2 linked regions of the Homo sapiens genome follow. The protein of the gene in region 1 interacts with the protein of each later gene in a pairwise test. Each region holds a gene or a part of one and is shown on either strand. Other genes may lie near its edges. The genes, in order: CORO1A and FSD2.

Region 1 (15,292 bases):
GTTGAAATGCTATGATGTCTGAGATTTGTTTTAATACATTCTGTTTTTTTTTGTTTTGTTTTGTTTTGAGACGGAGTCTCAATCTGTCGCCCAGGCTGGAGTGCAGTGGCGCAATCTCAGCTCACTGCAAGCTCTGCCTCCCGAGTTCACGCCATTCTCCTGCCTCAGCCTCCCGAGAAGCTGGGACTACAGGCGCCCACCACCTCGCCTGGCTAATTTTTTGTATTTTTAGTAGAAACAGGGTTTCACCATGTTAGCCAGGACGGTCTCGATCTCCTGACCTTGTGATCCGCCCGCCTCAGCCTCCCAAAGTGCTGGGATTACAGGCGTGAGCCACTGCGCCCGGCTGTTTTAATACACTCTAAGAAAATAATGTGAAAAAAGAAATGAATCAATGTTTGCTAATATTGCCATATTTGAATCAAATATTGCCAATATATGTTGACCATTGTCAAAGCTGGATGATGGGTACAAAAGAGTTTATTATACAATTATTCCCGTTTTCTGTATTTGAAAATGTCTACAGGCCGGGCATGGTGGCACATGCCTGTAATCCCAGCACTTTGGGAGCCTGAGGCAGGAGGATCACTTGAGGTCAGGAGTTGGAGACCAGCCTGGCCAACATGGTGAAACCCCATCACTACTACAGATACAAAATTAGCTGGGTGTGGTGGTGCATGCCTGTAATTCCAGCTACTCAGGAGGCTGAGGCAGGAGAATCATTTGAACCCAGGAGGTGAAGGTTGCAGTAAGCTGAGATTGCAGCATTGCACTCCAGACTGGGCAACAGAATGAGACTCTGTCTCAAAAAAAATTGGCTGCATGAGGTGGCTCATGCCAGTAGTCCCGGCACTTTAGGAGCCCAAGGTAGAGGATTGCTTGAGCCTAGGAGGTCGAGTCCACAGTGAGCTCTAATCGAGCCACTGCACTCCAGCCTGGGTGATAGAGTGAGACCCTGATTCAAAAAATAAAAATAAAGTTAACAAATTCTTGAAAACAGATAAAATAGGCTGGGCGCAGTGGCTCACGCCTGTAATCCTAGCATTTTGGGAGGCCAGGGCAGGCAGATCACCTGAGGTCAGGAGTTTGAGACCAGCCTGGCCAACATGGTGAAGCCCCATCTCCACTAAAAATAGAAACAAATTAGCTGGGCATGGTGGTGAACATCTGTAATCCCAGCTACTCAGGAGGCTGAGGCAGGAGAGTCGCCTCAACCTGGGAGGCAGAGGTTGGAGTGAACCAAGATTGTGCCATTGCACTCCTGCCTGAACAACAGAGTGAAACTCCATCTCAAAAATAATAATAATAATAATAATAAGAGATAAATCCTTATTACCATCAAAAGTTAAAAAAGAAGAAAGAAGGGCCGGGAGCAGTGGCTCACGCCTGTAATCCCAGCATTTTGGGAGGCCGAGGCGGACGGATCATGAGGTCAGGAGATCAAGACCATCCTGGCTAACAGGGTGAAACCCCGTCTCTACTAAAAATACAAAAAAATTAGCCGGGTATGGTGGCGAGCACCTGTAGTCCCAGCTACTTGGGAGGCTGAGGCAGGAGAATGGCGTGAACCCAGGAGGTGGAGCTTGCAGTGAGCTGAGATGGCACCACTGCACTCCAGCCTGGGCAACAGAGCGAGACTCTGTCTCAAAAAAAAAAAAGAAGAAGAAGAAGAAGGAAACCTAGTTCAAATTTTGATAAGGAAAAAAAAAAAGAGAGAATTTGTTGCTTCACATAATGGAAAGGATCTAGCTTCAAGTGCGGCTGGACCCAGGGCGGGCTCCGGGAGTCTGTCTTGTTCTCTCCCTTTCTTGACCCTACTGTCCTCTAGGTTGGTTCTGTTCTCAGGCAGTTTTGCTTCAGATGAAGGTGGGATGACTACCAGCATTTCTTAGACTTCTATCCTATAATGTGAGTCATCCAACAGAAAGTTCCAATAAAAGGCCTGCAATTAGCACTTTGGGAGGCCGAGGTGGGCGGATCACCTGAGGTCAGGAGTCCCAAACCAGCCTGACCAACATGGTGAAACCCCGTCTCTACTAAAAAAATATGGAAGTAGCCAGGCTTGGTGGTGCATGCCTGTAATCCCAGCTCCTCAGGAGGCTGAGGCAAGGAGAATCGCTTGAACCTGGAAGGTGGAAGTTGCAGTGAGCCGTGATTGCGCCATTGCACTCCAGCCTGAGCAACAAGAGCAAAACTCTGTCTCAAAAAAAAAAAAAAAAAAAAAGGCCTGGAATTAGTTCGCAGGGCACTGTTGGCCTGGCCTGGGTCTCCAGCGCTCATCACTCCTCTCTTAATCAGCTGTTCTCTAATGGCAGGAGTGTGCTAATTAGCCTCTGAATCCCCAGCACAAAGCACCCTGCCTGGGACACAAGTAGGTGGGTGGATGGATGGACAGATGGGTGAGGAAGAGGATAGAAAATAAGCAACACAGTGAGACCATGTCTCTAAAAAAATTAAAAGAGGGCTGGGTGAGGTGGCTCAGGCCTATAATCCCAGCACTTTGGGAAAAGCTGAAGCGGGAGAATTGCTTGCATTCAGGAGTTCAAGACCAACCTGGGCAATAATGCAAAACCCCCATCTCCACAAAAAATTTAAAAATTAGCTGGGTATTATGGCACTTGCCTGTAGTCCCAGTGACTCGAGAGGCTGAGGTGGGAGGATCGCTCACTTGAGCCTGGGAGGTGGAGGCTGCAGTGAGCTGTGATTGTGCCACTGCACGCCAGCCTGGGCGACAGAGTGAGACGCTGTCTCAAAAATAAATTAATTAAATTAAATAAAAAATAAGAAAAAGAGCTGGGCACGGTGGCTCACGCCTGTAATTTCAGCACTTTGGTAGGCCAAGATGAGCAGATCGCCTGAGGTCAGGAGTTTGAGACCAGCCTGGACAACATGGTGAAATCCCATGTCTACTAAAAATTCAAAAAATTTGGCCGGGCGTGGTGGCTCACGCCTGTAATCCCAGCACTTTGGGAGGCCGAGGCGGGTGGATCATGAGGTCAGGAGATCGAGACCATCTTGGCTAACACAGTGAAACCCCGTCTCTACTAAAAATACAAAAAATTAGCCGGGAGCGGTGGCAGGCTCCTGTAGTCCCAGCTACTTGAGAGGCTGAGGCAGGAGAATGGCGTGAACCCAGGAGGCGGAGCTTGCAGTGAGCCGAGATCGCGCCACTGCACTCCAGCCTGGGCGACAGAGCCAGACGCTGTCTCAAAAAAAAAAAAAAAAAAAAAAAAAAAAAAATTCAAAAAATTAGCCGGGCGTGGTGGCGGGCACCTGTAATCCCTGCTACTTGGGAGCCTGAGGCAGGAGAATCGCTTGAACCTGGGAGGTGGAGGTTGCAGTGAGCCAAGGTCGGGTTACTGCACTCCAGCCTGGGCGACAGTGTAAGACTCTGTCTCAAAAAAAATAAAAAATAAAAAATAAGAAAAATAAGAAAAGGGTCCCTTTCACATGTTTACAAAGCATGCTACCATGCTAAGGGCAGAAACTCCAAGTGGAAGTGACTTCCCAAAGACAGCATGTTACGTGTGTCATTCTAGGGCCACACTTTCTCCATGGAGAAGGCGGAGGGGGTAGGGAAAGTTGCCAGCACACTCCAGCCTGGTTCCTGGCACTGTGCCCAGCATTTATAGCTAGTTTCCATTAGTCCTCATCCTCTATAAAGTGAGGGCCACTGTGCACCTGTCCTAGATGAGGAAAACGCACCTGGCCAGGGACAGTAAGGAGATGCTGAAACCAAGGTTATCAGGGGTGCCTGACCCCACCATGCTCCACAGCCTCCTTTGGGCAAGACAGACTAGGGAAGCTCTGTGAACCTTGCTAAAGACATTGGACTTTGGCCGGGCATGGTGGTTCACGCTTGTAATCCCAGCACTTTGGGAGGCCCAGGTGGGTAGATCACCTGAGGTCAGAAGTTCAAGACCAGCCTGGCCAACATGGTGAAACCCCCTCTCTACTAAAAATACAAAAATTTGCCAGGCAAGGTGGCATGCACCGTAATCCCAGCTACTCGGGAGGCTGAGTCAGGAGAATCGCTTGAACCTAGGAGGCGCAGGTCACAGTGAGCAGAGATTGTACCACTGTACTCAAGCCTGGGTGACAGTGAGACTCTGTCTCAAAAAAAAAAAAAATAAATAAATAATAAAAATAAAAAGAGGAGTAATGATTTGATTCCAACACTTCAGTCTACCTCTACTGTAGGTATCTGGCTCCTTGGAAGGGCCTCTGGTCCTGTCTCCCTCCAGGGTAGGTGTAATCAGAACTTTTTCAGCTGCAAGTGCCAGGAATCCAACTCATACTTCTTGGCTTACGTGAAAAAGAAGTGCATTGCCTTATACAACAGGAAAGTTAAGGGTTTCAGGCACAGCTTGATCCAGACACTCAAATGATCTCAAGAATATGTCTCTTCATATCTGGCCTCTTCAGGCCTCTGTGTAGACCCATCCTAGCCAGCTTTTTGCTGTTTTTTTTGTTTTTGTTTTTTGTTTTTTTTTTTTTGAGACAGAGTCTTGCTCTGTCGTCCAGGCTGGCGTGATCTCGGGTTACCAAAACTCCCACCTCCTCAGTTCAAACTATTCTCCTGCCTCAGCTTCCCAAGCAACTGAGACTACAGGTGCACACCACCATGCCTGGCTACTTTTTATATTTTTAGTGGAGACAGGTTTTGCCATGTTGGCCAGGCTGGTCTCAAACTCCTGGCCTCAGGTGATCTGCCTGCCTCGGCCTCCCAAAGTGCTGGGATTACAGGCGTGAGCCACTGCACCTTGCTCTGACCAGCTTTTCCTGCATACCAACAAGATATCACCAGCAGTGCTGGGCTTACATCCTATCAGCTTCCTAACTCCCAGTGGAGAGAGGGCATCTTTTTCACAGCAGCTCCAAGGTGAGTCTTGGGCACAAGATGAATCAAGTGCCCATCCCTGAGCCAATGAAAACAGGTTGCTTTGGTTGGGAAGCACAGGCCATGTGAATACGCCAGGTCCCCTCCTGAACCTCATGGAGTGCCTGTGAGGAGAGGTTGGTTCCCCAAAAGAAAATCCAATAAAGAGGCGACGGGACCAGGCACGGTGGCTCATGCCTGTAATTGCACCACTTTGGGAGGCTGAGGCAGGAGGATTGCTTGAGCCCAGGAGGTCGAGACCCACCTAGGCCACATAGTGAGATCCCGTCTCTACCAACAATTTAAAAAATTAGCTAGGTGTGTTGGGCATGTGCCTCTGGTCCCAGGTACTCGGGAGGCTCTGAGGATGGATGGGAGGATCGCTTGAGCGTGGGAGGTTGAGGCTGCAGTGAGCTGTGATCGTGCCATTGCACCCCAGCCAGAGGGAGACCCTGTCTCAAAAAAAAAAAAAAAAAAAAAAAGAGAGAGGCAATGGTAAGAGCTAAACCAGCAGGAACAAGAGAGGCAAAGGTCCCCCTTTTTTTTCTTTTAATTGAAACTGGGTCTCCCTCTGTCACCCAGGCTGGAGTGCAGTGGTGCAATCATAGCTCACTGTTAGCCTGGAACTCCTGGGCTCAAGCGAACCTCCCACTTCAGCCTCCTAAGCAGCTGAGAACACAGGCACATGCCACCACAGCTGGCTAATTTCATTTTTTTTTTTTTTAAGAGATGGGGTCTTGCTATGCTGCCCACACTGGTCTCAAACTCCTAGGCTCAAGTGATTCTCGCCGCTCCTGGGCAAATGCCCTCTGACATCCCTTATAAGGACACCCTTTGAAAAGGTTGTCCCCCTCTCAAACATGGAGAGCCTTGCCAGGGCCTTCCCCACTCACTGCTGTAACTAATTCTTATGCTGCATGGACATCTGCTTCCCAGAACCTCCACCCACCAGCCTTGCCCCTGACCTTTGTGGCAGCCCCAAGGCTGCCCACCCCTTCCCCTGCTGCAGCCCACTTGGCCTCTGAAAGCAGCACTGTCTGCCTGCACCTTGCCCTCTCCAGGGCCGTCAGGCTCGCCACCTTCAGGAGCCTAGTTTTCAGGTCCTTCACCAATGCCCTCGTCCTGTGGGTGGACATGAGGCCCTCCAGAGCTGAAGGCAGTGTGTGCTTCAGTTTCTGCATCTGTAAAATGGAGATAGTATTTGCTACCCAGGGGTGCTATGAGGATTACATGAACATAGTATAGTGTCTAGAACAGTGCCCAGCACATAGTAGGCACTCAATAAAAGCCAGTTATTATTCCTGTCACTTCTGTGGGAGACGGCACATCAGAGTACCCACCTTATCTCGGTCTAGTCCCGTCCAGTCGCAGGCCTTTGAGTACAGTACAGCCCTAAGGTTTTTACAATTGAATAATCTATAAAAGATTTACAGATTTATTGTCTCATTTGAGCCTAGTAACTTTTTTGTTGTTGTTGAGATGGAGTCTTACTCTGTTGCCCAGGCTGGAGTGCAATGGCACAGTCTTGGCTCACTGCAACCTCTGCCTCCTGGGTTCAGGCGATTCTTCTGCCTCAGCCTCCCGAGTAGCTGGGACTACAGGCGCACACCACCATGCCCAGCTAATTTTTTTTTTTTTGAGACGGAGTTTCACTCTTGTTGCCCAGGCTGGAGTGCAATAGTGCCATCTCAGCTCACTGCAACCTCCGCCTCCCAGGTTCAAGCAATTCTCCTGCCTCAGCCTCCAGAGTAGTTGGGATTACAAGCATGCACCACCATGCCCGGGTAATTTTTTTTTTTTTTTTTTTTTGAGATGGAGTCTCGCTCTGTCACCCAGGCTGGAGTGTAGTGCCACGATCTCGGCTCACTGCAACCTCCGCCTCCTGGGTTCACACCATTCTCCTGCCTCAGCCTCCCAAGTAGCTGGGACTACAGGCGCCTGCCACCATGCCTGGCTAATTTTTTGTATTTTTAGTAGAGAGGGGGTTTCACCATGTTAGCCAGGATGGTCTCCATCTCCTGACCTCGTGATCTGCCCGCCTTGGCCTCCCAAAGTGCTGGGATTACAGGCGTGAGGCACTGCGCCCGGCCAGAGCCTCATAACTTTGTGAGGTGGGCAGTTCAAATCTTATTAATTCCCCATTTACCAATGACAAAATGAGGTTCAGAGAGATTAGCCCTCTTGGCCAAGATCGCACAGCCAGTCAGTGGCAGAGGTGGGACTTGAACCCGTCCCTTGCTGTTCCTTGAACTTCTCCACACGACAGGGCTGTCCCTCAGCCTACAGGTCACCCCTCTAGCCTTGCCTGTTGGCTCTTCCTAATCCTTTCAGGCCCAGCCCAGATACTTTTTAAACAAGAATGATGAGAGCTAACTTTTTTTAAAATGAGACGGTCTTGCTCTTTCACCCAGAGAAGACTGGGTGATAACAGTGGCTCAATCTTGGCTCACTGCAGCCTCTGCCTCCAGGGTTCAAGCTATTCTCATGCCTTAGCCTCCTCAGTAGCTGGGATTACAGGGGTGCATCACTACACCACGCTAATTTTTGTATTTTTAGTAGAGATGCGGTTTTACCATGTTGGCCAGGCTGGTCTCGAACTCCTGACCTCAGGTGATCCGCCAGCCTTGGCCTCCCAAAGTGCTGGGATTACAGGCGTGAGTCACTACGCATGGCTGAGAGCTAACGTTTATTAAGCACCCGCCACTTTCTAGATGAGGTCCTTACTGACTTCCTTGGGTTATTTTAGGTAATCATCCCCATACCTCTTACGTGGCAGGTATGACTGTTACAGAGGGAGAAACCGAGGCTGAGAAAGGCTAAGTAGCGGCCACACCTCACTCAGCAGGTGACAGGCTGCGGTCGCACTCATGACATAGTCTGACTCTAGAGCAGGCCTTTCCTGCCCGCTGTTGCTGCCTCCAGAAGCCTCTCTGAATCCAAGGGTGGGAACTATTCCTCCTTGCCCTCGAGCCTTCGCCAAAGCCAGGGCTTGGAGCGGCCGTGGGCTCCTCCTCCTTCCCCCAGGCTGGGCTCTTCAGGGGCGGAAACCTGCCTGGCTTGCCTGCCTTGCTCGACCCTGTAGCCCCTGGCACGAAGTAGGTGCCCGTGATGCCGGATTATTTCAGCAGGAGGGCAGGGGTGTTCCCGATGAAGCCAGGAGATCCAGGGAGGAGAAGCGACTCCCGGGGCCACCCATGCTTAGATCTCAGAGCCAGGCAAGAGCCAGGTCCCGGGGGTCCAGGAGCGCGCTCGGGGCTCCTCCTCGCCCGCGCCCCCCGCGCCCCTCGCGCCCCCCGCGCCCCCCGCGCCCCCTGCGCTCGCGTCTGCGGGGCCGGGAGGAAGGGGCGGCGCAGCCGGGCCGGGGCGGGCACCGAGGCCTGGCGGGCGGGCCTGGGGCGCTTTCGTGCCTGCCAGGGAAAGGCTGGCGAGGAGGCTGGGGGCGGACGCAGGGAGGAAAGAAGCAATGGGGTGCTCTTGCGTTTTGACATTTTAAAAAGAAGTTTAGATTCGCTTCCCGGAGCCGGGATGGCAGCCTGCGCTATGGTTGGGGACCAACGTGGTGCACGGGCAGGGGCCGGGGAGAGAGGCGGCCGCAGCGGGAGCCCGGGAGCGCAGGGCGGGCCTGGAAGAGCTCCGCCCCAAGGGGCGCGGCCACCCCGGAGGCGGGCGCACGGCTGCTTCTCATTCATTGTCTTGACAAGAGCATCTTCAGCGGGCGAGTCCCCGGCTCCTCCAGCTCCTTCCTCCTCTTCCTCCTCCTCCTCCACCTCCGGCTTTTGGGGGATCACTGTCCTCTCTCGGCAGCAGGTGAGGCTGGGCCTGGGAGGCGCGGGTGGGCCGGGGCGAGGGCCACCTGTGGGGCGGCGCGCGCGTGGGAGCCGCGGGCTGCGGGGGCGCGCGGCTGTCACCGCGACCCAGCCAGCGCCGGGGCCAGGTAGCGGGCGCAGCAGCCCGTGGGGGGACGCTGCTTGGAGTGGGGGCCGCCGGGGCCCCAGAGCGCTCTGCGGAGGCGAGGGCTAGGGACCACCGCGGCCAAGATGGAGGTGGGTGGCCGGGGGTCAGCACAGTGTCGAGGGCCCGACTCCCCACGGAATTGAGTCTCGGGGAGGGTGGGGACGAGGGCAGGGTGGGGTGAGCGGGGCAGCTGCCCTGGGCTTGGAGACAGGAAGGGGTTGAGAGCAAAACAAGAAAAGACCAAGTTCCCCTTTCCGTGGTTTCCGGGCCTGGTACCTGTGGTGGGGGAGGAGGCAGGGTGGGGCGATGGCTTCCTGTCCCCCACCTCTGGTCCGGGGCTCCCCTCTCTCCAGATACAGGCTGCTCCTCAAGACTGGGGCTCTTCACATACGCTCCTCACCGCTCTTTGGGCAGGCCGACCTAGCAGCCTCTTCGGGAGTCCTGGGGTGGCCGGGGGTGCTGGAGCCCCCAGTGAGTAGGCGAGGCTGAGGCTAGGGGCAGAGGCTCTGGGCATGGCACCCTCCAAGCGGCAGCACAGGCCCCTTCCCTGAGCAGGAAGGTGATGCGGTGGCACAAGGTCGCCCCTGGAGTTCCTTGCTCCCCACCCAGACACTGGGGGAAACCATCCTACCTGGACCTCAGAGCAGTCGGAGTGGCCTCTCCCTTCCTGTGTGCAGTTTACATGGGGGTGGAGATGGCTCTTAAGGGCACCTGCTTTTCTGAGCGGAGGCGAGAGGCAGAGGTATGGGGAGGAGGAGATACCTGGACCTGAGCCAGAGACCTGCTGGGGAAGCTATCCTGCCGCCTCACTCCCCTCAGGCAGCCCCCACGCCACTTCCTCCTGTGTCCAGCCCCATGCCAGCAGGCGAGGGAGGCCAGCTCCTGTCCCTGCCTTTAGGAAGCGCTGTGTGGGTGTGAGGGAGGTGGGCTCTGGACACGGTAACTAAGAGAGAACCCACCCTCGGAGCCATCTGGGCTGATGACGCCTGAGTCTGAACCATTAGGAAGGACGGGCTCTGCATCCATCAGCCAGTCAGTCAACAAACATGCAGTGGGGCAACACCACGCCAGGCTCTGTTGCAGAGGCTGAGGGTACAGATTGAGAGGGTGGCTCAGAGTGGCCTGGGGCCAGGGAGAAGGGGGCTTGCAGGTTAGAGGGAAGGAGAGGCTGGGGAAGGCAAGCAGGCATCAGCCACAGAGGGAAGAATAGGGAGCCCCTGGAGATGATGCTGGGACCTTAAAAGCCAGACTGAGGGGTGTCCTGGGGGAGGTGGGGACCACTGGAAGATCAGAGTTGACCTGAAGGGAGAAATGCTCTTATGCTGTGTGCCCCCAGAATGAGCCGGCAGGTGGTCCGCTCCAGCAAGTTCCGCCACGTGTTTGGACAGCCGGCCAAGGCCGACCAGTGCTATGAAGATGTGCGCGTCTCACAGACCACCTGGGACAGTGGCTTCTGTGCTGTCAACCCTAAGTTTGTGGCCCTGATCTGTGAGGCCAGCGGGGGAGGGGCCTTCCTGGTGCTGCCCCTGGGCAAGGTGAGCCCCTGGGGCCCTGGGGGGAGCAGCTCCTCCACCGGACCCATGGCTCTGTGCAGGTCCTGATTAGGTGACGGTCACCAGGCCTTCCAGGGCCTGTGTTGCCATCTGGAAAACTGAGCTGGGCCCCATGAGCCTTACACTTCCTCCAGCTCCTCTGTGCTGTGGCTGTGTGGAAACTGACGCTCAGAAGGAGCCAACACAAGATGGGTCACACCAGTGACCAGGACTACAGACAGTCCTGCAGACCCATGATCAGCCCTCCTGAGCCTCAGCCTGGGGCTTTCTCCCCATGGAAACACAGAGGGGGTTGGGATGGGGTCTGGGGGCCCTGGCAGCGTTCTCAGGGTTGGGAGGGACTCTGGCTCTGGGCCTGTCTGAGGACCTAGCAACTCTGTCCCCCAGCTCGCAGGCAGGGATGATGCAAGAGGTGCTCTCCCCCACCCGCAGCCCTGCCCTCCCCTGGAGCCTGCTGCCCCCTCCGCTGGCTGGCTGCTGCCCCGCACCCCCAGCACACTCCTGTGCTCTTTGGGGGGTAAGACAGGAAGGGGAGATGGGCCCCAAGTTGTTACCTTAAAAGGGCTGATGGAAGCAAAGAGAAGAGGAAGTGGTTGTCGGGGTGAGAGCTGGGCCCGCGCCCCACATGGCTGTCACACAGGAAGCCCTGCTGAAGCAGCTGTCCCCGGAAGAAGCCATTTCCAAACCTCTGCTCCTGCCTGGGGCCAGTTGGGACAGGCTCCCTGGCCCCTCTCCTTTTGGGAGGACCCACCCCTGCAGCCCCACCACTCACACTCGCTCTCTGGGGAGCTGCCTCCACCCCCCCAGCCCCCATACACCTGTCCTGGCTCCAGGGCCAGTTGTGCCCATGGAAGCCTCACTCGGGGAAGCTGGGGTGGGGGTGCCAACCCTAAGGGCAGAGACAGACTGAGACAGAGACCGGCGGGAACTCTGCCAGGGTCTTGCACGGCCCCCAACCTCTGCCATGCGTGGCCAGCCCTCCTGGGGTTTGCCCAGGCCATTTTGGGACTGGAACAAGAGAAGAACAACCCGCCCCCGTCCCCACCCCAGGCCCTGGTCCAGCTCCCAGGGACACCACAGCTTTCCTCTCTGGGCCTCTCTGAAGGAGGTGTGGGGAGGTTGGATTGGGTTTGGGAGGCAAAAGCACCTCCAAGGCCCTGCTGTGCCTTTAGACTGGACGTGTGGACAAGAATGCGCCCACGGTCTGTGGCCACACAGCCCCTGTGCTAGACATCGCCTGGTGCCCGCACAATGACAACGTCATTGCCAGTGGCTCCGAGGACTGCACAGTCATGGTGAGTGGTGGTGGGGACCCAGGGGCTGGGAGAGGGGCTCTAGGATGGGATCTGACATTTGGAGTCCTGAAGACTCACTGGCCCCTCCTCTGCAGGTGTGGGAGATCCCAGATGGGGGCCTGATGCTGCCCCTGCGGGAGCCCGTCGTCACCCTGGAGGGCCACACCAAGCGTGTGGGCATTGTGGCCTGGCACACCACAGCCCAGAACGTGCTGCTCAGTGCAGGTGCTGCGGGAGGAGGGGCTTGGGGGTGGCTCGTGGCCTGCAGTGGATGAGGGCAGGAGGCTCATGGCTTCTGACACTGTGGGGAACGTGCAGGTTGTGACAACGTGATCATGGTGTGGGACGTGGGCACTGGGGCGGCCATGCTGACACTGGGCCCAGAGGTGCACCCAGACACGATCTACAGTGTGGACTGGAGCCGAGATGGAGGCCTCATTTGTACCTCCTGCCGTGACAAGCGCGTGCGCATCATCGAGCCCCGCAAAGGCACTGTCGTAGCTGTGAGTCGCCATCTACCCTGACCTTTGACCCTACAGCCTTTATCCTTCTTATCCACCATCAGCCAGGCCCTTGGATGCTGCCCTCCCTCGCCTCCACCTGGGACTGGCCCCGTAGGGTATGTACGGGTGCCTGACCTACCACCTCCCTTTCCTTGCAGGAGAAGGACCGTCCCCACGAGGGGACCCGGCCCGTGCGTGCAGTGTTCGTGTCGGAGGGGAAGATCCTGACCACGGGCTTCAGCCGCATGAGTGAGCGGCAGGTGGCGCTGTGGGACACAGTGAGTGCTGGGGCAGGAAGCCGAGGGCCCCCAGGCTGGGAACCAAGACTGGAGGTTTCGTCCCTGCTCTGCCACTCACCTGGCAGGATGGCCATGGGCCTCAGTTTACCCAGGCGTGAGATGGTTGTTCCCACTGGTTGGTCGGGAGGGCCCTCACAGGTCACTGCCCAGGGAAGACCACCATCCCAGGGCCTGGGATGTTACCTCTCACCTGTGTCTACAGAAGCACCTGGAGGAGCCGCTGTCCCTGCAGGAGCTGGACACCAGCAGCGGTGTCCTGCTGCCCTTCTTTGACCCTGACACCAACATCGTCTACCTCTGTGGCAAGGTGGCCTCGTCGGGCGGGGTGGGGGTGGGAGGTGGGCAGGATGGGCCTGGAGAGGGCCAGGGCAGTGGGCATCCGCTGGTATTGACCCTCCCTCCACACCTGCCACCTACAGGGTGACAGCTCAATCCGGTACTTTGAGATCACTTCCGAGGCCCCTTTCCTGCACTATCTCTCCATGTTCAGTTCCAAGGAGTCCCAGCGGGGCATGGGCTACATGCCCAAACGTGGCCTGGAGGTGAACAAGTGTGAGATCGCCAGGTGACTGACCCCCGGCCCTGACCGCAGCATGCTCCTTGGGCAGTGGGCAGTCCCAAGCCCACCCAACCAGACTGTGGGCCCCGCTCACCTTCCCCTTCCCACAGGTTCTACAAGCTGCACGAGCGGAGGTGTGAGCCCATTGCCATGACAGTGCCTCGAAAGGTGATGCTCCCCCGCCCCACCCTGGGCTCCAGGCTGGGCACTGACTTTGCGGTCTTGTGGGGGGTGTCCTGGCATAAGCGCTTTCCTCACTATCCCTGGCCTTGCCCACAGTCGGACCTGTTCCAGGAGGACCTGTACCCACCCACCGCAGGGCCCGACCCTGCCCTCACGGCTGAGGAGTGGCTGGGGGGTCGGGATGCTGGGCCCCTCCTCATCTCCCTCAAGGATGGCTACGTACCCCCAAAGAGCCGGGAGCTGAGGGTCAACCGGGGCCTGGACACCGGGCGCAGGAGGGCAGCACCAGAGGCCAGTGGCACTCCCAGCTCGGTGAGAGGGCTGGGAAGCCAGGGAATAAAACTGGGAGGGTGGGGTGGGGCTGGTGTTTGGGGCACCTCAAACTCACAACATTGGGAATCTTTGTGGGTCCGGGAATGGTAATCCTGAGGCCTCAGAACACAGGTTTCAGATTGATAGGCCTGCAGGTCTCCAGGCAGCAACCAGCTGAGCGACTAAAGGGCCCAAGGCCAGGGCTCTAGGGATGGGGCTCAGCAGAGGCTGGGGTAAGGGGAGCCAGGGAGGAGCTGGGCCTAATGCAGCACCGGGTCCCCAGGATGCCGTGTCTCGGCTGGAGGAGGAGATGCGGAAGCTCCAGGCCACGGTGCAGGAGCTCCAGAAGCGCTTGGACAGGCTGGAGGAGACAGTCCAGGCCAAGTAGAGCCCCGCAGGGCCTCCAGCAGGGTCAGCCATTCACACCCATCCACTCACCTCCCATTCCCAGCCACATGGCAGAGAAAAAAATCATAATAAAATGGCTTTATTTTCTGGTACCTCCCAGACTCTGATGACTGGTCCCCTAGACACGCAGTTTGCTGAACCAACCAGCCCTAGAGCTTCCCCTCCACCGCGCTGAGGGGACTGACCCATGGCAGGGGATGTGGGATGCCCCCTGACTTACTACATCACAGGAACAGGGCCTTCGTGGGTAGAAACCAGCCATGCTGATGTGGGCCAGGAGGCTGCTCTCCGTTTCCGAGCTCCTTCTCAGAGCTGACACAGCTGAACTATTTAAGGCCCTAGCTTAGAACCTCAATAATTCCCAAATTTACCAAAAATCTGCCTTTCCTAGTCAACCAAAACATCACGTTGCACGTGACTCTGCTGGCACTGTTGCTTGTGAGGAAATGAACCAACCATCACTTACAGGGTAGGCATCTTTTAAACTGCAGGTCCAAAGATAAAAATAACGAGGGAGGCTGGGCATGGGGACTCACGTCTATAATCCCAGCACTGTGGGAGGCTGAGGCGGCAGGATCATTTGAGCCCAGGAGTTTGAGACCTGCCTGAGCAACACGGCGAGATACCGTCTCTACGAAAAATAAAATAAAAAATTAGCCAGGCATGGTGGTGGGCACCTATAGTTCCAGCTACTCAGGAGGCTGAGGCAGGAGGATCCCTTGAGCCCAGGAGGTCGAGGCTGCAATGAGCCATTGCACCACTGCACTGCAGCCTGGGTGACAGAGCAAGACACTGTCTCTAAAAAATATAAATAGGCCGGGTGTGGCAGCTCACGCCTGTAATCCCAGCACTTTAGGAGGCCGAGGTGGGTGAATCACCTGAGGTCAGAAGTTCGAGACCAGCCTGGCCAACATGGTGAAACCCCATCTCTACTAAAAATACAAAAATTAGCTGGGCATGGTGGCAGGCGCCTGTAATCTCAGCTACTCAGGAGGCTGAGGCAAGAGAATTGCTTGAATCCGGGAGGCAAAGGTTGCAGTGAGCCGAGATCATGCCATTGTACTCCAGCCTGGGGGACAGGAGTGAGACTTCGTCTCAAAAAAAAAAAAAAATATATATATATATATATATATATATTTTTTAAATGTATAAATACATCATATATATTTTAATATATAAATATATTATATATATTATATATTTTAATATATAAATATATTATATATAATATATTTTAATATATAAATATTATATATATTATATTTTAATATATAAATATTATATATATTAATTATATATTTTAATATATAATATATATTATATTATATAATAATAAATTATATATTA
Region 2 (14,627 bases), on another chromosome or scaffold:
CATAAATTACTAATATTAGAAATGAAAGAGGGGAACATCACTACAGATCCCATGAAGATTAAAAGGGTGATAAAAACTCTATGCCCAAAAACAAAAACAAGAAAAAAACTCTACGCTCATAAATTTGATAGCCTAAATGAAATGGACCAATTTCTTGAAAGATACGATCTGGCAAAACTCACACAAGAAGAAACAATCTGAATAGGCCTATATCTATTTTTTAAATGGAATCAATAATTGATAACTTTCAGAAACAGAAAGTACCAGGTCCAGATGGTCTAACTGGTGAATTCTATGAAACATTTAAGGAAGAAATTATGCAAATTATCTATAGTCTCTTTCAAAAGATAGAAGTAGAGAGAATCTTTCGTAACTAATTTTTTTTTTTTTTGAGATGGATTTTCGCTCGTCACCCAGGTTGGAGTGCAACGGTGCCATCTCAGCTCACTGCAACCTCCACCTCCTGTGATCAAGCGATTCTCCTGCCTCAGCCTCCCAAGTAGCTGGAACTACAGGCACCTGTCACCACGCCCGGCTAATTTTTGTATTTTTAGTAGAGGCGGAGTCTCGCCATGTTGGCCAGGCTGGGCTCAAACTCCTGACCTCAGCTGATCCGCCCACCTCGGCCTCCCAAGGGGCTGGGACTACAGGCGTGAGCCACCACGCCCGGCCCCTACCCATCCTTTAAAGGGATACTCCGAATGTCTATGAACACTCAGATAAAACTGAACTAAATTTGAATCCACTTGTACTACATTTATTTGTCAACTCTTCGTTTGTCTACTTCTTGAGAACTTTAACAGCTGTACTGGGTTGGTTAGTGTCGCCCCCAAAATTCATGTCCTTCCTGGAACCTCAAAATGTGACCTTATTTGGAAAGAGTGTCATTGCAGATGTGATTAGTCATGATCAGGTCATACTGGAGTAAGGTGAGCCTTTTACCTAACAGGACTGGTGTCCTTATAAAACACACAGAGACAGAGACACACAGGGAGTATACCATTTGATAACAGAGGAAGAGAATGGAGTAATGCAGCTACAAGCGAAAGTACACCAATGATTGCTGGCTCCCACTAGAAGCTAGGAAGAGGCAGGAAGGATTCTATCCAGAGTCTCAGAAGAAGCAAGACCCCACTGACATCTTGATTTCTGACTTCCAGACTCCAGAAAGCGAGAAAATATATCTGTTGTTTTAAGCTATCCAGTGTGAGGTACTTGGTTATGGCAGCTTCAGAAAACTAATACAACAGCAATTTCAATTTCTACTTTATCTTCCTAGCCCCAAGAGTACCATGTGGCTATTAGAGTACAGGATTATGTAGGCTCTCAAATCCCTTCCATGGTAAAAGAATGATTGGGCTTCCAGCAGTGGCCAAGAATTGCCAGACGCTTATGAGCGCCTGCTGCGAGATGCTTGTACAGTGAATGCTCAATAAAGTGGTGGCCATTATAACCGCAAGCAATGAGACTACATAAATAGTAAGAAACGAAATAGAACAAGGGGCAGCGGGAGCAAAGAGAGAAACAAGGGCAGCTGAGGAAGGAAGCCTCAATTCCCCGGAGGACATCCGCGGGCGGAGGAAATGTGAATCTGCAAGTCGTTCTCCCAGACCCCGCTTAACGATTCCCGGCCCTTTCTCCACTCCCTACAGCCCTCGGACCCAGCAACAACCGGATCCTGTGCAGGTCTTCCCTGAGTCCAACGCGATTCTCCTGGATAACGTCAACCAGCTGAGCGATTCTGAGCCTGCGCGAAGCTCCTCGGCGCTTCCAGTAATGTCACGCTGGTGCGTGGGGCGGGACTTCCTCTCACGCGCAGGAAACGAGAAGGGCTTTTCCGCCGGAAAGAGAGTGGATTTACTAGGAAGGTGGGACGTTGGAGGGGTGGCCGCATGGAGTGAGTACTGTCTCTGGCCACCGAGCAGAGCCAGTGACAGCAGCGTCCTGGTAGGCAGGCAGGCGTATCAGGTTTCAGAGGATGCGGCTGGGAACGGGAGTAGAGGTGAGGGGTCGTTGCATCTGTCGCGGTGTGTATCTTTTGGGGGTTCAGCGCCACCAGCGACTTGGGCCTCATTCATCGCGCTTACATTTCTCCACCTCATTTGAAGAACGAGCTTCGTAGCCCACGGAGCTGAGGTTAGTATAAATGTGGAAGGGAGAAGTATGCACTCACCAGACTAAAGTTTACAGTTTTCACATAGGTTGTGCTGTTCTGTGTCCCATAAGGGCCTGCGAGAACCCAGACATTCTGAATCGGTGACGCCTGCTGGAGGCAGCAACACCTGTTGCATTAATTTTAGAACACACACACACGGAGTTGGTAATTCTTAAGCTTCCTGAATCTGCTGGCGGTCATTTGGTGTCAGAAGCAGAGCAAAGCCATCTTGGTCATCTCCCTCCTTTTAGCTTAAACCGAAGCATGATGGGGGAGATAGGCCGAAAGTTATACAGCTTGTTAATAACAGAGCCGAGAGTGAAAGCGCGATTTCTTCATTTTTAGCCCGGAATTATTTGTTGTACACCATACTGTTTCTTTGCATTGCTAGACAATTCGTCTTTTTTTACGAGGTTGACGGGGAGTTGCAAGGAGGAGTGAAAAGGGTGGTAATGTACATCTACATACAGTATAAATCCATGAAAGGCAAAATCCGTGTGTGTTAGGAGTTAGAACTGTGTCAGTCATCTACATCTTCCATAGTTTGTAGATGGAGATGAGTCTGTCACGTCGCTCTGTCATTTCCCTTTTAGCAACAGATGTGTAGTAACAATATGTGAAGAAGGAACTTTCATTGCCTGTTACATACATTTACACAGAGCGGCCTGGGGTTCACTGAGCAAGCTATGTGCTCACCCTAGAAAACTGATTCTGTAGAGTGCACTGCAGTCAAACCTCAGCTGTTTTAAGTAATCTTACATTTGGTGCTTGTGTGGCTTAAGTGTCTTGTGCATTATTGCAGTCATCTCTCTCATGTTATGAAATGGAAATGTGTTGTAGGAAAGTGGCAAGCCTGTGAAGAAAGTAAGTGAGCCTGAGGCCCAGAAAACCATACATTAGCAAATACTGAAAAACTGTTCACATCACATAGGGGGTATCTGAAGTACTGAGGAGCTCATTTAACCGGATGTTCATTGTGGGGAAGCCATGAATAGCCTCCCTCTCCTGGGTTCAAGCGATTTTCCTGCCTCAGCCTCCCGAGTAGCTGTGATTACAGGTCCATGCCACCATGCTCGGCTAATTTTTGTATTTTTAGTAGAGACAGGGGTCTCACCATGTTGGCCAGGCTGATCTCGAACTCCTGACCTCAGGTGATCCTCCCACCTTGGCCTCCCAAAGTGCTGGGATTACAGGTGTGAGCCACCGTGCCTGGCTCCTATATAAACAATTTTCAAACTTGTTGGTCTCAAGAGCCACTTAACAGTTATTGAAGACTCCAAAGAGCTTTTGTTCATATGAAAATAGTTTTGACTTCACTAACCCCCAGAAGGGCTTTCAGAAGCCCCCACAGAAACCAACTTTTAAGAACTACTTTATGCAGATGTTTCAAAGACATTTTAGATTATGTAGAGGAATGATTGCTGTTGTGATTGTGACATAAGCAGAAGTATCAACTTAAAAATGCAACAACAAGCACAGTAGCTTGTATTTCCAGTAGCTGTATAATTCCAGGCACAGAGAACACAAACAGATGTCCATTTTTAATTCTTTTCTTGTTTTTTTTGAGACAGGACCTCACTGTCACCCAGGCTGGAGTGCAGTGGTGCAATCACAGCTCACTGGCAGCCTCGACCTCCTGAGCTCAAGAGCTCCTCCACCTCAGCCTCCTGAGTAGCTGGGGCCACAGGTGTGTGCTACCACCCTGGCTAATTAAAAAAAAAAATGTTTTGTAGAGACAGTGTCTCTCTGTGTTGCTCAGACTGGTCTCAAACTCCTGAGCTCAAGCCATCCTCCCACCTTGGCCTCCTGAAGTGTTGGAATTACAGGCGTCAGCCACTGTGCCTGGCCTGTGATATTTTTCTATGCTTGGAAAGTTTATTAATCAGCTAGGATACTTCTCTACAAAAATACACATATATAACTTGAGATTTAAACTTTTCTCAGCCAGCTGTGGTGGTTCACACCTGTAATCTCAGCACTTTGGGAGGACAAGGTGGGTGGATCACTTGCGCTCAGGAGTTTGAGACCAGCCTGGGGCAACAGGGCAAAACCCCATCTCTACAAAACTGCACCCAGCTATTTTGTATTATTTTTATCTCGTTGCTTTTTTTTTTTTTCTTTTTCTTTCTTTCTTTTTTTTTTTTAGTGGTTTCAGGCAGTGGTTCAGACCAGCTGCTAGAGAATCATGGGCTAAGAAGAGAAGACTACCAATTTAGTAGATTTGGACATGGACAAGCCACAGGCAGTTTCTCTTCTCACTCTCTTGGCCAGTCATCTCTTGCTCACCTTCCCCTGCCAGTAGCCAGTAGCATGTGACAGCCTCTATATTCCATCTCCCTTTTCTCCCTCTTCCAGAACTAAGATGAGTTTTCAATGGATAACTGTACAGAAACATACCCACTGCTGAGTTTATAATAAATAGGTAAATGGTGTTTAAAATGCCTTCTGTAGGAATCCTTGGTAGATAGTTATATGTGGTTGTTTTTTGGGAAGTTGGCTTGAGGTTCTTTGAAGGGCTGGGAACGTGTATTTCTTTTGCGTGTGCCTGTGTGTGTCAAAATTTTATATGTTCATCAGTGCTCTACACGTTCAGAGAAACGTTTCCAATAACGAACCATAGAATGATCCCTGGAGCATAGGATCCCACTGTTTGAAAATTCTAGCCATCGATCACTTTATAAGAAAAGGATGAAATTTCAAACAAGGAGTTTGTTTATCTGATTTCCACCCTACAGATAATATATAAATTTGGCCAAAGTTGTTTGGGGAAGAGGGGCTGTTGTTAGGTACTGAGCTATAATACTTTGTTGCTTTGTATCACTTTTAAAAGTGACTTTTAAAGATACTTGACATTTGAAAAGGAATCACCTTTGATCTTTCTAAGTCCCTAATTTGACATTACCTTTATAGCATATAATTTATTCCATAAAGTCTTAGATCCTGAAACTAGTGGAAAGCCAAATACTCATGTTGTGCTATAAATATAGGATTGACAGTTAAGCTTACTCAGTAGTCAAGGGGGCGGCTTTCACTCACCAGCCTCCAGGGCATATGAACCAAATTTATGATTCAGAACATTTAAAATATACATTTTGAAGATCTTTGGGCTCTCTTAAGTATAGTCTAACTATAATAAATATTAAACATGTCAAAGGTCTCTTGCAGTGTTGGGAAGAGCATTCTAAACCACATACATCTTTCCCATCCCCAGATTGTTCTGTGTCCCCTCCCACTCTTCCCAGATTAGAAGTCACCATGGAGCACTATTAGTAATGGGACTCTGTATCAGATCTTTAAGGTGTATTGGGACAGAAGAAAGGTTGATATTTTGGGGTTGTTTGTTTTTTTTGAGACGGAGTTTTCACTCTTGTTGCCCAGGCTGGAGTGCTATGGCGTGATCTTGGCTCACTACAATCTCCGCCTCCCTGGTTCAAGCAATTCTCCTGCCTCAGCCTCCTGAGTAGCTGGGATTACATGCGCCCACCACCATGCCCGGCTAATTTTTGTATTTTTAGTAGAGACGGGGTTTCATCATGTTGGCTAGGCTGGTCTCGAACTCCTGACCTCAGGTGATCTGCCTGTCTTGGCCTCCCAAAATGTTGGGATTACAGGTGTGAGCCACCATGCCCAGCAGGTTCATATTTTTAATGTTTCCTTCTACTCCCCAAGCACACACAAATTTGAAAGCTGCTTTGCTTTCTAATAAAGAGGCTTTTCCTTTGATTTTGGAAGATAATTTGATGTCTCTTTTCTCTTTGCAGGTATATGAGCTCCCTGAAAGCACAAAGCAGTTATTTCCATCTTCAGATCATTCAGAGATTATGAAGGCACAAACCCTGCCTTCAATTTGCTTATAGTCAAGTGGAGCAGACACAAGTCAATGATTGCAGTATAGCCACTGAAGTAATCTAAAAGAGGTGAGTGTGGCACTTAACCTCTCCTGGGAGGGGGAGGAATAAGGCAGTGTTTCCAAGAGGTGATTTTGGAGCTATACAGGCATTAGGTAGACAAGGAAGGGGAGGTCCATTCTGGGTGCCTAGGACTCTGTGGCTGATTTATAAATCGTAAATGGTACAAAAAACAGTGTTGAGTATCTTTTACCTTTCTCCAGAGTACTGTTCTTACTTTTGGATAGTGCTTCTTGTTTTTTCCTTCCCTCTCCCTGTCCCTGTCACCTTTAAATTAAATGAATGTTTGGAAGGAAGTAGGAGGGTAAGAATCTTTCTGGGTGGCAGAATAATAGATGGGTCTACCAAGAGCGATGTATATACCCAGTAAAGCCATCTCTAAAACTGTGTTTCTGCATTGTTACAGTGCATAGTTGGGAAATCTCAGTTTTGTTGGCTGTGTACTTTCCCAGTGAATGGATTATATTCCTTTCTGCGAGCCAGTCTGTTTGAATTTAAGGGCATCTCTTAAATTCCTTTCAAGCAAGAGACCTAACATTTATACTTAGGAATGAGAGTAGTAGAGACAGCAAGATTAGAATCCAAGTTCATATACCAAAACATTTTTATTTGCTATGTCTGAGTGACTACATGTTGTTTGAATCAACTGCAGGCTAATTTGTAACATTTCAAATAAATGATAGTTTAATTCCTCCAGGATTTGAGTAAGGTGAAAATAGAGCTAAAAACCATGATTCTGTCACAGTCTGGGAAAATGAAAAAGCAATCAATTAGTGAGTTGGGCTTAATTTTTTTTTTTTTTTTTTCTGGAACTGGTGATAGCAGAAAACAAGCAGTAAAGTAGTCAGACATGATATACTTGACAAGAACCACCACCTGTTCAGTAGCAACTCTAAAATAAGTACTAACTTAGGGGCAGTTGTTGTGCCCAGGTCATAGTCATACTCCTTCCAGGAGACTTCCTGATGACAGAAAAGATGCTGACCAGCTGGGGTCTTCTTTCCAAATAACTTTTCTCTTGCATTTAGATTAATTAACCATTGGTTACAGTGAAACAAGCATATGTACAGAGTTAATCTCCTATAGCTTGAAGTTATACATGATCTTTATTTGAGTATCTTGACTTGTTAAAGGACAGTGTTTTAAAAGCTGGATTTGGTTATGTTCTTCTGGAGACTAAGAAAATAGAGTCCTTGAAATCAAGCTGACTCTGCTTTTAGCCTCCTAAATGAAAAGGTAGATAGAACAGGTCTTGTTTGCAAAATAAATTCAAGACCTACTTATCTACCAACAGCAATTACACGCTTTCCATTGTCTTCCTATAGAAAATAGGAGTAGTACACTTATAGATGAGAAAACTGGAGAAAGACATAGTGAACATGTGAGAATCTTGCTCTACTAATTGATAGGAAGGTGACTAGAAATTGGCGAAGTTTTCTTGGTAAGTTGAGGAGAGGACTTTTCTTATAGTGCAGTCTGGTAGCTGAACCGCCTTGCATCAAGACCAATGTAGTCTTATTTACAGAATGCCACATCACAGTGAATTGTGCTGTGGACAGCTTCCAGTGTGTGAGTTGTGGAAGATGATGATTTTAACAGATTTTGGAGGATGAGAAGTATTAAGAAGAAGGCCCCACTGTCCATGCATTTGCTCTGCTTTTTACTTTTGACCAAGTATACACTTCAGAAATATCTTATTGGATGTATACAAAGTGATTGTGTGTCATTTGAACCAGCAGGAAGTAATTTATTAAACACACTTTTCTAAATAAAAGTCATTTAATTTTATCAGAAATCAGTGTCATTTTAGATTGCAAGTCTCAAACCAACTTTCCAATTCTGACTTGTAAGGGTGCCTTAAATCCTGAATACTGTACTCTGTATTACTAAACCCATGTTAGTTTACGCCAAGATTCTGTGGTGGTTTTACATATTCTTTTTCCCCTTTGTTAAGGTGGGGAGGCCACAGCTTATGTGAATGACTTTCTCAGGAGTTATAAAGTGATACAGGTAAAGCTAAGAAAAGAACAGATTTTGATAACTTTTGTTTTAACTGTCCAGTGTTAGGGATTGTGGCTACAGTGGTCTAATTTTTAAAAACTCTTTTTTTTGCTTTGTTTTTTAACAGACTTATCAGCAGGTTGCAGGTGAACATGGCCTTGAGGTAAATCTGTCCCTTGCTGAATACAGTTTCAGTAGATTGTTTATAGTAGTTTCAGGAATTGAGATTTTTTACAAAAATACAAAAGTTTTGCTTGGTTCTGTTCTAGATGTTTTCTTCTAAATAAATGAGAAAGATGTTTCAACAAAGGCTCTTTATGCTGAATAATTGTGATGCTTGAAGTTGCTAATCTGCTTTAAGTGGATTTTAAATGTCAGGCAATTCTAGACAGTTTTTTCTTGGTCAAATAAAAATTTAATTAAAACTTTATACGTGTTGAGTTTTTAATCCATTTATCCGTGTTCATACTAACGTGTAGTATTCCATAAAGCCTATTAGAACCCTGAATTCAAACTTGCCTTCTCTGTGATATCCTGTTTCTTACTTGGTAGTTTCTATTTCAGTAGCTGAGAACTTTTTTTTTTTTTTTTTTTGAGATGGAGTCTTGATCTGTGAGCCATCTCGGCTCACTGCAAGCTCCACCTCCCGGGTTCACGCCATTCTCCTGCCTCAGCCTCCCGAGTAGCTGGGACTACAGGCGCCCGCCACCAGTCCCGGCTAATTTTTTTGTATTTTTAGTAGAGACGGGGTTTCACCGTATTAGCCAGGATGGTCTCGATCTCCTGACCTTGTGATCCATCCACCTTGGCCCCCCAAAGTGCTGGGATTACAGGCGTGAGCCACCGCGCCCGGCCGAGAACATTTTTAAATATACATGATATGTATCTTTTAATTGTTTATAACTGGAACTATTTCTGTGCTTACATCTGCTGTCCCTTGTTTCAGAGTAGACAGTCCAGCTTGGCAGGATAGGTGTGTGTGTGTATAACGAGTTATTAAATTGTCAGTGTGAATTGTTAATTCAGGAATCTGAGCTGCCATTTATACGAGTAGGCAGAGTTTAGTAGGAGATGAGAGTCTTTCAGTTTGTCAGACTTTGCAGGTGCTGGAAAACATCAGAGGTTTTTTGTTTGTTTGTTTGTTTGTTTTTGAGACAGAGTTGCGCTCTTGTTGCCAAGGCTGGAGTGCAGTGGCACAATCTCGGCTCACTGCAGCCTCTGCCCCCGGGTTCAAGCAATTCTCCTGCCTCAGCCTCCTGAGTAGCTGGGATTACAGGCGCCCACCACCATGCCCGGCTAATTTTTTGTATTTTTAGTAGAGACGGGGTTTCGCCAGAAAAAAGAAAAGTGGACTTTTTTTTTTTAAACACAAAACCTTAAATGATGAGATTAGGGCATATCTGGGTTTAGAGGCATCTGTGGGACATGATACTGAATTGTAATTGCTTCACAAATGGAATTATTCTGCAGCTTCACTCACAAGCTTTGAAAATGCTGTGTGTGCAGAGCTTAAGTGGCAACTGGAAACTTGAACAGGAGAACCAGGAATGTAGCTGATGGAGTTGGGCATTGAGCTCACAGAATGGCCTGGGGGCAGTGAGGCAGGATGCCTGAAAGCTGCCTAGCTAGAGATCAGTCTTCCTTCCCGTGCTCAGCTTTGCCCTTTGGTGGGCTGTTAATTTCTTTTAAAAAATTGTTGTGCATTTGCTAATATGCCACAGATGCCCTTCTGTTCTTTCACGCTGCCTCCATTCTAGGTTTTTTCCCATTTCTTGGCCATAGGTCCTTTGCTGTAGTTTTGAAAGAGCCCTGCCATCCTTCACATGGAGAGCAGTAAGAGGCCAAAGAGCAGTGGCTGAAGAAGATACTAATTTATTCAACAAATACTTGGTGACAGCTGTTATGTGTTAGCCCTTGGTGATCTAGCAATGAACAAAACAGGCACTGTCCCTCCCTTCATGGAATTAGGCATTATAGAGGTAATTTCAAAATTAGAGAGTGGTGCATACTGTGTAGGAGTGGAACAGGGAATACCCTGTATGCAGAGTACACAGTGGAAGGGACCTCACCACAGTGCTGCTCACTATTGGGAAAACGAGGGTAGAAGACATTGAGAAGGGCACACAGCTTCCCTGGTTCTCTACAGACAGCCTCTCGCCTTCTCAAGTGTATTCTTGGCTGACTCATGAAATGCATGGGTGTACTGGTGCTGCTGGAGCCATTAAGACTACCCTCGTCCTCTCCCAAGCTCTCTAGGTCTTGGAAACTCAAGATATTTTGCATATACACGAATATAGTTTGACAGCTTCAAAGACTTTTGAGTTCGTTTAGTCTGAGCCTTTATTTTACAGCTGGGCCTGGTAATGACTATCCTAGCAGCACACAGGTAGCAGCACACAGGACTAGAATCCAGGTTGGGTGAAATGAGCGCTAGCACACCAGTCAGATAATAGCATGAGCCATAAATTGTGCTGGGCACATGGTGCTTAAGTGCCAGGTTCAGCCAGCTAAGGCGTGAGCAGCTGCGAGAGGGGTAGGCATGGAAGACAGGAAACTGGACATCAGAATGTTCTAATAGAAAGTGACATGTTTTGGCATTGAAATGCCATTATGTACCTTTAGACACCCAGGCTTTTCCAAAGAAAAACAGGGATGCACAAATTCGTGAAGCTGACAACTAAATGTATATAGATGCTGAGAAAGGTCCACATTGAAAAATGACAACTTTGAATGTTCATAGTCTAATAGAATGCCAATCTTCTTTGGTGGAACTGTTATTCTTATATCTGGAGTTGTTCTGTTGTGCAGAAATTCATACTTATGCCTGAAAATTAAATTTGACATAATAAAGTTTCAGTAATTCTATAGATTGACTATTTATAGAACATTTCATACTAATTTTATTCATAGTCCTATGATTTTGCTATTTTCTAGTATTAAATGACTACCAAGGTGACAAGCCATTTCTAAAACTATACTCTCTAAACTATCTCTTTTCTAAAATTTGTCCTAAGAAACATTTTCTTTTTTTTTTTTAGATGGAGTCTTGCTCTGTCACCCAGGCTGGAGTGCAGTGGTGCAATCTCGGCTCACTGCAACCTCAGCCTCCTGGGTTCAAGCAATTCTCCCACCTTAGCCTCCTGAGTAGCTGGGATTACAGGCGTGCACCACCAAGCCCGGCTAATTTTTGTATTTTTAGTAGAGACAGGGTTTCACTGTGTTGCCCAGGCTGGTCTCGAACTCCTGAGCTCAGGCAGTCCACTTGCCTTGGCCTCCCAAAGTGCTGGGATTACAAGTGTGAGCCACTGCTTCTGGCCGAAACATTTTTCAAACATCATTTTTTCTCTAGCAACCTCTTAACCTAAGAAATTTACCTATAGCATCCTGAACTCTCTTTCATCTAAACTAGCATAGGAATAGAACATGTTTTTAAAATTTGGATTAGACATTTGAAACAGGGAACCTTGTGATTTTCCATGTGATAAAATGGGCTTCTTGGTATAAGCTCTTCTATGCACAGTTACTCCAGTTCTTAAACTTTCATATTGAGTGGGGAGCCAGTGGGCCTGTTACCAATCAATACTATATCACTATCCATGCTCTACATCCTGTGTACTTTGAAAAATGGCAGAAATGAAAACCTGTCACAGGAATTTCCTAACCCTGCTACCTACAGATATTTGAAGAGCTCTTTGTGTCAACAGGCTAGTCTAGGCTACTGGGATAAACACTTGGAATATGATCTAAACGTGTCAGAGGAAGCCTGCCTGTCTCTAGCCCATTTCACCTTAATTTAACTAAGCAGCTGCCAGAAGCTATGAGTCGTTTCTTCTACTTTCTATGCTACCACCAATAAAGTCTAATACTATGAGCCAAAAATGCAAGTCTGCTAGGAGACCTTATCCTAGGATACCTTACCTTCATTCTCCACTTGTAACGTGTGTGCACGTGTGTGCGTGCACGCACACACACACACACACACACCCTACATCTGTAAGAAACTGGCTTGGCTCTAGCACTTGGACTGTAGCTTTTGCCCTTCTTTTGTCATTCTTCTGTTTCCACCCCTCTTCTATTGTGTCTTCTTACCCCCTTTATTCTTCCCTCTACACGTGGACTTCTAGGCTTTCTTTATGCTCCCTTAGTTTTACTCTGCCCCTTGTTCTTGCCTTTCTAAAGAAGAGACTTTGCTCTTTAGTCTTACTTCAGGCAGAATCCCCAAATAAAGTATCTGCCTCAGTGTATAGTAATTCTTGGATTCCCCAAACTGGGTGTGAGGTTTAGTAGATTTCATTAGAGTCTTCATCTGTTATCGGAGGGGAAGTTGGTTTTCCCACTTATGCTTGGGCATGACACATAATGTGTAAATAACCATGATAGAGGATCATGGGCAGAGAGCATTGGATGAACATTAATAGGATTCATCAAATCAAGGAGGGTCAGAGGCCCCATTTTACAAGGTGTGATAGGAAAGCAGTGTGGGGTCTTGTTTTTCAGTTTTTGAGGTGAAGGAAGGTTGTAACCATGGCCTTCTAAGTCTGAAAGTGTATTCATTGGCCTGGGCTTCGTGAGACTTTTTTTCCCACTATATGGAACTACTCCATGTGTAAAGACAGAGTGCCCAGCAGCAGGAGCAAACCAGAATTAGCCATAACTACTAAGCCTCTTGCCCACATTTACTTAAAAAGATGGAACTGGGGCTTCAAAGCAAACTGTATTGGCTTAATACTAAAGGTGAACAGAAATGAAAAATCTATCACTTAAGTGGTTAGGAATGAAATCTTTGGAACCAGACTGCTTGAGTTTGAATCCAAGTTCCAAATCCATGTCGTTTGGATTATCTAATTGCTGTGAGGTGTGGTCTTCTTATTTTTATTCTTTTATTTTATTTTATTTTTTTATTTTATTATTTTTTTTTTTTTAGAGACGGGGTCTTGCTATGTTGCCCAAGCTGGCTTTGAAGTCCAGGGCTCAAACAATACTCCTACCTCACTCTCCTGAGTAGCTGGGACTACAGGTGCACACCACTGCACCCAGCATTCTGATTTTTCAAATGAGATAACACAATTGTGAGAAGTAAATGAGATAATGCATGTAAGAGTACTTGGCACATAATTCTCCATAAATTTTAGCTATTTTTAGTTGAAGAAAAGCTGCTCTTTCTCCTCTTACTTGGACTTTAGGGAAAGTGGCTGGCAGCAACTCCTGAAATATCTTAAAATATTTGTAAAATATAACGTGTGTCTTAATTATTGCTAGTGAAAAGGTCTTGCTGTAATCTTTCAAAAGCAAATTTTAATTGTGAGTATCCAGATTTTACTTTACCTTGATGATGCAAATGTGTGCCTCATGCACCAGGAGAGGCAATTTGCTCCCAGATCCTCCTGTTTACGGACATCTGCAAAGGCCACACCAACTCTGTAGTCCAAATGCTCATCCACCTCCACCTCCCAGTAATGGTGCCCTCGGACTGGAATTAGATTTCCCATGACAGCAACACACCTGGTTTTAGAAAGTGGAAGCATGTGTGATCTGGGGTGCCCCAAGCCTGGCTGTGCAGGTCAGTGATGCCAGTTGCTGGGATCAGTCAGTCGGTGGTCTACGAACGTGGTGGTAGGTGCTTCTGGACACTTAACTTGTAAAGTACCCTTAGCTCTCAAAGCTCAGTGGGCTGATACTGAAGATTTGAGATTATGTTACTGCTTGGTAATGGGAGAGGAGGAGGCACTAAACCAACAGAACAAGTTTTGTTTGCTCTTTAAAATGGTTGGGGCTTTCATAGAAAAAGGTTTGGTTCACTTGTTCATAAAAAAAGAAAAGGGTTGAAAATACACAACACAGCACGGTTAAGGGAACCATAAGCTTGAAGTTCACCACCATTGCTTATGGTACTAAATGAACATGGAAGGCCTTTGAGGTAGCCATCATGTTAGGGATGACTCCTGGTGGAATTCAGAGGCCAGCCCAAGGAGAACAAGATAGCAGATTCCTCACAGATCATTAAAATCTACCTCCACTGTTGCACTGGGAACAATTATACTGACAAAGATTAGAGTTATGTTTTGTTCTACATCAGCAAAGTATCAACAGAGGAAGGTTTTCAGTGAAAATCAAATTATACTGGTATCTCCAAAGTGAATATTCTACCTTCTTCAGGAGACTCCTACATTAACCAAAATATATATAGACCTCAACATCCCTAGAAAGATTTGTTCAGTTTAAAATTTTCTCTCTACTTTCAAAACCCCAAGTTCTTACTGCTCAAGCAAAGCTTTGGGAAGGAGGTTGCATGTTGGTTAACTTCTACCTCGGTTACCTCACCTATAAAATGAGGCCATCTCTGCTTCAAGCTCCAGACTCACATTTCCACTTGTTGTTTCAAATTCAGAATGTCCCAAATGGAAAAAGTCATATTCCCACCCCTCTTATCTACCAAAGTTTGGGGTGTAGTGGGGAGGGGTACATACTTCTCACATCTCCATTTTGGTTAATAGAGTCATTATCTACCCGGTAACCCCCTGGTGGAAAACTAAGATGGGAATAATGTAGTGGCTACAAGCTCA

Evidence for each region.
Region 2: the proteins of CORO1A (region 1) and FSD2 interact in binary tests that used the Homo sapiens proteins (3 or more experiments, as listed by UniProt).

Annotation. Positions count from the first base shown.
Region 1 is NC_000016.10:30,175,040-30,190,331, forward strand, and holds CORO1A (coronin-1A), read left to right. Parts: upstream 1-8,562; 5' UTR 8,563-8,686; exon of another isoform or gene 8,687-8,732; intron 8,733-9,109; exon of another isoform or gene 9,110-9,380; intron 9,381-9,464; exon of another isoform or gene 9,465-9,749; intron 9,750-10,169; 5' UTR 10,170-10,170; coding exon 10,171-10,368; intron 10,369-11,558; coding exon 11,559-11,681; intron 11,682-11,776; coding exon 11,777-11,906; intron 11,907-11,999; coding exon 12,000-12,184; intron 12,185-12,342; coding exon 12,343-12,462; intron 12,463-12,685; coding exon 12,686-12,790; intron 12,791-12,902; coding exon 12,903-13,048; intron 13,049-13,152; coding exon 13,153-13,210; intron 13,211-13,321; coding exon 13,322-13,537; intron 13,538-13,820; coding exon 13,821-13,925; 3' UTR 13,926-14,037; downstream 14,038-15,292. UniProt on the Homo sapiens protein: May be a crucial component of the cytoskeleton of highly motile cells, functioning both in the invagination of large pieces of plasma membrane, as well as in forming protrusions of the plasma membrane involved in cell locomotion.
Region 2 is NC_000015.10:82,748,713-82,763,339, forward strand, and holds the end of FSD2 (fibronectin type III and SPRY domain-containing protein 2), read right to left. Parts: intron 13,567-14,627; coding exon 13,390-13,566; intron 10,889-13,389; coding exon 10,636-10,888; 3' UTR 6,650-10,635; downstream 1-6,649.